Regions from separate parts of the Homo sapiens genome. Here region 2 is linked to region 1. Evidence: fine-mapped expression QTL. A gene starts in region 1. The other region holds a variant in brackets. All regions are shown on one strand. Distances are between the middles of the regions.

Region 1 (4,381 bases):
CCCAGTCCTGTTCAGCACAGGTAGGTGGAAGGGAAGAGGCGTTGCTCAGTAGCAGGAAAGCAAGTTGAGGCTTCAGGCTGCCCGGACTCCTGGCCCCACAGCCTTCTCTGGGCTTTGGTGTAAATACTTCATCCATTTGTTTAACAGATATTTATTGAGCACTATGCTAGCCATTTGGAATACAAAGATGCCTTCCGTTATTACAGCGTAGTACAAGAGATGAGATGTGTAGGAAAATAACAGGAAAGGTTCAGATAAAGAGCTACAGTGCTCAGTGGCAAGAGAGATAGCTTCTGTTTGAGGTGATCCAGTAACAGAGCTGGTCTTGAAGGATGGTAAGTTTTAAACATCTTTGGTGAGAAGAAGGTCATTCCTGATGGAGGAACCATCATTTATGCAAAGACACAGAAGTGGGAAGTCTTAGGATATGTCCTGAGAGCAGTAAATTGCTTAATTTGTCTCACCCAGTTCTCAACTGGGTGATTTTGCCCCCATGGGGACATTTGGCAATGTCTGGAGACATTTTTGGCTGTTACAAATGGAGGAAGAGGGAGTTGTTACTAGGGTTTAGTGGATAGAAAGATGCTGCTAAACATCCTACACTGTACAGGACATCCCCCCTGCACCACCACCCCCAACAAAGAATTATCTGGTCCAAGATGTCAGTAGGACTGAGGTTGAAAAACCCAGGATAGAGCATAGAGGGTAAAAAATGGGAGATGAGGTTGGGACTTAAATATTACGCTTTCTAGAGAAAGGGAACCTGGAATAGTCAAAGCATATATGGAGGGTGTGTGGATGATCAGAACACAGGGTGTTGAGCAGGAATCCTGTGGGAAAGGCCTGGATTTGGAAAGTGGAGAGTAGAAAGACAAAGGGTGAGAGGGATGAAATGACAATTCAGAAAGATCTGTCCTTAGTCCAAGGCTTAGGTTTAGGTCTGGGAGGGTAAGACTCCTGGGCTTGGATATAGGATCAGAGTTCCCTTCCTGCCTGGCCCCAACTCTTCATAGGCTGGAGCCCCTTGGATGTATTACTGCACTCACTGCTGACACAGCCCATCTTCCTGGCTGGACTCTCAGGCTTCCTACTAGAGAACACGATTCCTGGTAAGTTGAGGCTAGGCCCTAGCAGACTGGGGAGTGGCCAGGAAGCCATCCCTCCCTGGGATGGGCAATAGCCTGACAAACCTCTCTTTTGCAGGCACACAGCTTGAGCGAGGCCTAGGTCAAGGGCTACCATCTCCTTTCACTGCCCAAGAGGCTCGAATGCCTCAGAAGCCCAGGGAGAAGGCTGCTCAAGTGTACAGACTTCCTTTCCCCATCCAAAACCTCTGTCCCTGCATCCCCCAGCCTCTCCACTGCCTCTGCCCACTGCCTGAAGACCCTGGGGATGAGGAAGGAGGCTCCTCTGAGCCAGAAGAGATGGCAGACTTGCTGCCTGGCTCAGGGGAGCCATGCCCTGAATCTAGCAGAGAAGGGTTTAGGTCCCAGAAATGACCAGAACGCCTACTTCTGCCCTGGTTAATTTAGCCCTAACTCTCATCTGCTGGAGAGTCAGCTCCCAAACTGTTCTTTCTTGTAGGCAGAGGATATGTGTGTGTGTATTACATGGGACTGTCTAGAGGTTCCATTTCCCAATAGGGTGGGTTGCCTTTCCTTGTCTTAATTAGGCCTAACTGTTCCAGAGCAGAGGCCATGATTTAGTGGACCATGAATGATTGAGATTTTGCCTGTGTACTATCAATGCCACTTGAACCCCAGCATTCACTTTAATACTTACTGAGCATCTCCCATGTGCAAGGTCCTGGAACTACAGGGATAAGACAGGGTCCATGCCGTCTCAAGGCATTTACGGTTTAAAAAGACCTTTGTAATTACTAACGAAAATGCAAAGCAGAAAGCAGTCTGTAATAAAGATTAAAATAATGCCGTGGGAGCAAAGAGGAAGGGATAATGAATTCTGATTGGGGACAGTGGGAAAGGCTTTATGCAAGAAGCAATGAGGATGGCCTTGACAAATGAGGATTTTTGGTTTTGGAAAATGGATGCAGAGAAGTTTTCAGGTTCGGGGTCCAGCTTGAGCAAAGCCATGGGTTGTACAAAGTCCAAGATAGGTGAGGGGTTTCAAATTTCTCAGTAGTGAGGGAGTATAAGTACGGGGATGATGGAGAAATGAAGCAGGAGAGGTAAAGGATGAGGTCGGACTATGGGACTTATGCCTGGGAGACTCCTTCCTTCAACAACTCTAGTGCTGGTGGAGGACCTGAGAGATCATCTACAGAAGTTCAATCCCTTATTTTGTTAAAAAGAGACCGGATAGGTAGGGGAGGGAAGAGAAGTGACTCAAGTTTGACAAATCCAAACCTGGGCTCCCCTCTCCTGCGCCTCGCCCGCTATTCTTTCCACTCGGCCAGCGTGACTCCAAGACGCGCCACTACCCTTCTACTAGCCGGCTGCCCGGCCTCTCCTCCACTTACCCTGGCCACTGGGGCGCTCCTCTCATCAGTGTCCCAGGCCCAGAAGCCCCGCCCACGCCAGGCATAGGCCCCGCCCCTGTATCCCAAGACCCTGCCTCCTCTTGCGGTGGGGGGAAAGCGGCCTCTTACTCTAGGCCTTTCGGTTTGCGCGAGCGGGCAGGAAAGCGTGCGTGCGGCTAAGAGAGTGGGCGCTCTCGCGGCCGCTGACGGTAGGTGGAATCGCGTTCGAGTCCGGGCAGGAGCAAGCCAGCGAGGGGCTGCTCAGACGCTGCGGGTTGGCCCTGGCGCTGGCCTTTTCTCCCTGGAGGGAGCGCGCGCTGCCGGGGTCCAGGGCAGGCCTCCGGGGGAGGGGTGGGCGGGGCCGCGCGTGCGCAGTCCGCTGGCTGCTGCCCGGCGTGGATGGTAGGGCTCGAGTGAAGGTACTCGTTGGTCGCCTGTTTGGTGCGACGAAGCCGCTGGTGGCCGGCTTTGTTGCCCCTTGAAGCCGCGCCCCAGTGCAGCCAGTGCTGTAGAAATGGGAAGGCGGACAGCGAAGGCTGTTATAGCTGGGGCGGGTGGAAGCGGGACGCCTGGCGGCTCCTGGGGTGGGGCTATGGTTGTGGTGGGACCTAGGGTTCGCGCTGTCCCAGGGGGACCGGGCGGGGCCCAGCCGGGATGCTCTCTGGGCCTCTACTGCCCTCTGCAGGGCGTCGGAGGAACTGCCCAGAGGGGTCACTGCTGAGGAGCGGACTCGGTGCAGATAAAGGTTCTCAAGGGACCCCTCCGCCGGGATGCCGCTCAGCGCCCCTCCACTCAAGAGAAATAAACCCGTGAATCTCGTTAATGTGAATGTTAGAGGCAGCCTTGAAGGAAAAAAGAAAAGGATGAAGTGTAGAAGCTTCGGACGCAGAACGGGACGCGTGTGGTGGGAGCAGGCAGCCGGGGTCTGGTGCCCAATGTGTCAGGCCTTTTTATAGGGCCCGTTACTCCTGGCCACATTTTAAACTCCTCCCCCTTTACCCAACAGACAAACAAAACCCATCAATTTGAGGGTTCTGAGCTTCCGGGCTTTCCGAAGGAATGGGCTAGAATAGTAAACCCAATTTTGGCAACTGTTAAGAGTACACTGGGGAGTGCCTATAAGGGAGATGAAAGTGGCGACTTTATTCGCGTTTGTGACCTTTGGCATTGTGGAGCTCTTGTCCGGCTAGGACTAGCTTAATCATCCCATGACCACTTCTGTCCCCATAAGAGCAGCATGTGGGAAATGTGACGGAAACACCATCCTCCAAACACAAGGCTTTGAGGATGCCATAAAGAAAGATCACCACGTATATGTATATATATGCATATATATATATGCATATATATATGCATATATATATGCATATATATATGCATATATATATATGCATATATATATGCATATATATATAAAGTTATGTCACAAGTCACAAGGGCACACTTCAAAAGCTAGGGGAAATGACTGTGTTAATCAGACTTAATAAGGAATTTCATTATTTACATTCTAAATTTTTCCTTCCTGGTACTTCTGTTCATTTTATATTTGTAGACTGGAATAATGAAGGAAATTGACATATTTTTTTCTCCCCCACAGGAAAAACAATCACATTCTCTGTCAAGCAGCCGTAGTTCTGATTGTCTACTAGGTTAAGCCTACTACTTTAGCTGCTGAGATAGAAAAGTTGTTTTGCAGGGGTTCCAGGCTGGGCATGTTGTCATTGGTGGCAGTGCACTGGAGTGGGAATGTGGAGGATGAGTTAAGTGGAAGTTAATTCAGTCTTTACCTCTGTGATGTGCTCTGCCTTGTATTCATGATTTCCTAGTCATTCTGGTTTTTGTTGAAATGAAATTTAGGTCTTTTCTGTTGCTCCTGGACACAGGTTCTTAGCTCTTTTTTGT
Region 2 (4,381 bases), 130 kb after region 1:
AGTGAGGGCAGGGAGGTACCTGGGAGCAGTGACCTCAGAACAGAAAACAGGACAGAGCAACCAGGAGCGCCCCGGCACACACACATGCTGCCCGCTCCAGCAGCAATCCAGCTTGGGAGGCCCCGTCAAGGGCTTAGCCCCTCATCTCATTAGACAGAGGGCGTTCCCCAGGAGATGCTGGGGGTAAAGGCTGCGATATTATATTGGCCATCAGAAAGTCCTACATTCCGTGGCCGGGGACGGTGACTGACTTCTGGAATCTCAGCACTTTGGGAGGCCGAGGCAGGCAGGTCACTTGAGGCCAGGAGTTCGAGACCAGCCTGGCCGACATGGCGAAACCCCACCTCTACTAAAAAATACAAAAGTTAACCAGGCATGGTGGCACATGCCTGTAGTCCCAGCTACTTGGGAGGCTGAGGCAGCAGAATCACTTGAACCGGGAGGCGGCTGTTGCAGTGAGCTGAGATCTCACCACTGCACTCCAGCCTGGGTGACAGAGCGAGACTCAAAAAAAAAAAAAAAAAAAGAAAAGAAAAGAAACCCCTTCTACATTCCTTGGCCTCTTCCTGCCACTCCCCACCCACATTTCCTCAAAATACTTTTTCCACAAAAGAGGCTCTAATGTTTGAGACCAAGACAACATAGGTGCCCAGCTCCCCTCAGAGTCTGACGTGGGTGCCACGGCCTGGCCCTCCCCTCAGCGGTTGTGTTGGGGGTGGCTGAGGGTGGGCGGGATGTGCAGTCCCTGAATGCCACTGATGGGTGACTGCCCCTGCCCCGCCTCACACTGCAGAAGGAGTACATGGACCAGCTGTGGTTTGAGAAAGCGGAGGGGATGTTCTGTGTCGGCCTACGGGCCACCCTGCCCTGCCACAGGCTGATCTGCCGCCCACCATCCCTGCAGCTGCCCATGTGTGCTGTGGGAGATACGACTGAGGCCTTTTTCTGCCTGGATAATGTGGGGTGAGGAAGAGGCTGAGGTGCGGCGGGGAGAGCAAGAGCTGTGAGGAGGGTGTCTGGAAGCAGGAGAGACAGGCATACCCTTGTCGGGGTAGGGTAGTCTGAGGTTCTGCCCAGCATCCCTGACTTGCTACTGCAGGAGCAGGGGCCGGGAGCCCAGTGCCCTGACCTGCCCCCCACCCCCAGGGACCTGCCCACCTTCTTCACCTGGGAGTTCTCCAGCCCATTCCAGATGCTGCCCGCCACGGGGCTCCTGGAGCCAGGCCAGGCCTCTCAGATCAAGGTGACCTTTCAGCCCCTTACAGCCGTCATCTACGAGGTGCAGGCCACGTGCTGGTACGGGGCGGGCAGCCGGCAGAGGAGCAGCATCCAGCTGCAGGCTGTGGGTGAGGCCCAACCTCCCACCGTCCCCAGACTGGCCCCTCCTGCACCTTCTGGGTCCTCCAGGCCTCAGTGTCCCCCACCTCCCATCTGGCCTGGCCCCCGCCTCCACCGGCCTCCTGCCCTCCCCCAAGCCCAGAAGGCTTTGCCTTTTGTCTTCCATGATGTTACAGGCTAAATTTTCCCTGGGGCCACCTGCCTTCTTCGAGGGGCTGTTCAGCTGGGGCCACAGAGGCCCTGGTGGGTTCCCCCAAGACTCCCCCATCTCTGCCCCAGCCAAGTGCGCCCAGCTGCTGGTGAGCATAAAGCACAAGTGCCCGGAGGACCAGGATGCCGAGGGCTTCCAGAAGCTGTTGTACTTTGGCTCTGTTGCTGTGGGCTGCACCTCGGAGAGGCAGATCAGGCTACACAACCCGTCGGCGGTAGGCACCAGGCAGGAGGGGCGGCAGGACTCACGCCCCCAGGATTGGAATTTCCTAAAATCACCGCCTTGCAGAATGCCCCCCCTTTCTCTCCATGCCTTTGGCCCCAAGCCTCATGTAACCCATGTCAGCTGTCAACAGGTGTGTCCTTCTCCTCAGCTGGGGGCTGGGCTGGGGTATACCCTGGCTCCCCAGAGCCACGAGCAGCCCTAAGACTGTCCTGACCCCAGGACCACAGTTAGCTGTGATGGTACCCTGGGGAGAATTAAAAGGTGCCCCCTTTGGGCAGGCCCAGCGCAGGGCACATGACTCGGTCCCTTCTCTCCTCCTGGTGGAGGCAGTCTGGCCAGTGGGGCACAGGCTGGATGCCAGCTGCCCCCACCCCCTTGGCTAGGCACGCCAGTACAATGCGTAGACTGTCCCATCATACAGTGCTCTGCTCTGTGACCTGACCCTTTGTCCTTCTGCTTGGCCACACAGGTAAATGCCCCCTTCAGGATTGAAATTTCCCCGGATGAACTGGCCGAAGACCAGGCCTTCTCATGCCCCACGGCCCATGGCATCGTGCTTCCGGGAGAGAAGAAATGTGTGTCGGTGTTCTTCCACCCCAAGACTCTGGACACCAGAACTGTGGACTACTGCTCCATCATGCCTTCTGGCTGTGCCTCCAAGACCCTGCTTAAAGTCGTTGGTTTCTGTAGAGGTACCGGTGACCCCAGGGGCCTCCCCTGGGGACAGGAGCAGCCCCTGCTGAGGATTCTGAAGAGCTCCTTCCCTGCTCCTAGGAGGCGGGGCCACCTTGCCTCAGCCTGGGTGTCTGCTGCCCCCTGGTGGCCCT[G/A]TGGGGAATCATCCGTGACTACCTGGAGATCCCAGTCCCACTGGCATCCAGTGATGCTGGAGTTCTGCTCAGGCTGCCAGGGCTCTGGGCCTGTAGCCTGGCCCTGAGAGTACCACCTCCCTTCAGTGGAACTTTGTCTAAGATATCCTTGGGGAAGCTGATACCCCATCTCCTGTGTCCAGGCCCTGCTGTGTCCCTGCAGCACTACTGTGTCAACTTCAGCTGGGTCAACCTTGGGGAGCGCTCCGAGCAGCCCCTGTGGATTGAGAACCAATCGGACTGCACGGCCCACTTCCAGTTTGCCATCGACTGCTTGGAGAGTGTCTTTACCATCAGGCCTGCCTTTGGGACGCTGGTGGGCAAGGCCCGTATGACCCTGCACTGTGCCTTCCAGCCCACTCACCCCATCATCTGCTTTCGGCGTGTGGCCTGTCTCATCCACCACCAGGTGAGTCGTGGGGAGGGCATGAGGCTGAGGGAGGAGGGGCTCCCCTGGGGCCCACTGATGATGACAAGGCTTGGTGGGCACTTCCCTGTATTCTGGAACTTCTAGGGCTGTCTGCCTGGTGGTCTCCCACTCCTGGGCCCCAGCCCTGGCTTTTGGAGCCAGTGTGCAGCCTGGGCACAGGGCAGATCACTCTGTGCCAGTCTTGCCCTGCTACCAGGCCAGGCGCTTTGCTGCTGCTGTGCTCATGGGCTGGGAGAGGGAGGCTTGGACTCGCAGCCTCCCACCCTCCCGCTGAGCCCTGCAGGCTTTGCCTTTTCTTTGCCTTCCATGACTTCACAGACTAATTCTTCCCTGGAGCCACCCCACATAGCATGCATAGGGCAGAGAGCTTTCAAGTTAGACCCCAACCCTAGGTCCCTGGGCATGATCAGACACATTGTGCCCTGACCAGCAGGTGCCTGGCCAAGATGGCAAACGGGGCTGAAATGTAACCCATGATCCCTCCCTGAGCTGGTGCCCAGGCTTGGGCTGTGTCTGTGTACCTGGAGGAATGGGTGCCTTTCTCTAATTCTTGTGACAGTTTAGTATGGGCTGGGGGAGGCCTTGGAAATGGAGGAAAGAACAGAAGCCCAGAGGGAGGCCTGATGAGGCAGCCCCCCATATTCTCCTCCCTTGGGAGGGCCTGAATTCTAGTTTGGCAGGCCTCTGGGCTGGCAGTAGGGTGGGTGGGAGAATGCCCAGGGGCCATGGCAGAGAGGAAGGGTGGGTAATGGCTGAGTGTCCTAAGGACCGGGGTGCTCTCTCCTGACCTTCCCTGGACTCCTGCTGTGCCCTGGCTGAGCCAGACCACTGCTGAGTGCTTGCTCACTGGCCACCTGGAGCTTCTGCCCCACTGCCTCTGTTATCCTGTCTGCCCAGCTTCTGTCCTCAGTTCAACCCCCAGCACCCCCCTTGCCCTACCACCCCTCCCATGCCCCACCACACACAGACAAATGTCACAGGACCCACTGTTCCTGGACCTGATGGGGACCTGCCACTCGGACAGCACCAAGCCAGCCATCCTGAAGCCTCAGCACCTCACCTGGTACCGCACACACCTGGCCCGGGGCCTGACGCTCTACCCCCCTGACATCCTGGATGCCATGCTGAAGGAGAAGAAGCTGGCACAGGACCAGAACGGGGCTCTCATGATTCCCATCCAGGTACAGTGCCCTCCCCAGCTGCATATCCCTTCTCTAGTGATTCTTGGGCAATCCCATGCCCCCAGGGTCCCATGGGCACCATTAGTAGTCAGGGCGACTGGTGTAGCCTTTCTAGACAGGAGTGTACCCA

Direction of the effects. Alleles are on the strand shown, and positions count from the first base shown. SD is a standard deviation of normalised expression in the study named.
With allele A in place of G in region 2, the expression in lymphoblastoid cells of the gene that starts at base 2,593 in region 1 is higher (small effect, 0.37 SD a copy in GTEx).

Evidence for each region. PIP is the estimated chance that this variant, and not a neighbour inherited with it, causes the effect. A credible set is the group of variants that fine-mapping cannot tell apart.
Region 2: its variant is the best candidate, but not a certain one, in a credible set for the expression of NHEJ1 in lymphoblastoid cells (GTEx, PIP 0.77).

What each region holds. Positions count from the first base shown.
Region 1 is chr2:219,159,027-219,163,407 of GRCh38, reverse strand. NHEJ1 (non-homologous end joining factor 1) reads left to right here and starts at 2,593. Exons shown (of 8, transcript NM_024782.3): 1 at 2,593-2,688. SLC23A3 (solute carrier family 23 member 3) reads left to right here. Exons shown (of 12, transcript NM_001144889.2): 10 at 1-20; 11 at 1,014-1,109; 12 at 1,204-1,943. The coding sequence ends at 1,499. RefSeq lists a silencer at 2,809-2,928.
Region 2 is chr2:219,028,071-219,032,451 of GRCh38, reverse strand. CFAP65 (cilia and flagella associated protein 65) reads left to right here. Exons shown (of 35, transcript NM_194302.4): 7 at 794-963; 8 at 1,147-1,346; 9 at 1,618-1,763; 10 at 2,244-2,466; 11 at 2,784-3,049; 12 at 4,051-4,251. Among named protein-coding and RNA genes, the nearest start is that of CFAP65, 11 kb to the left of the region's middle. RefSeq lists an enhancer at 2,651-2,840. The variant G/A (reference allele first, on the strand shown) is at 2,602.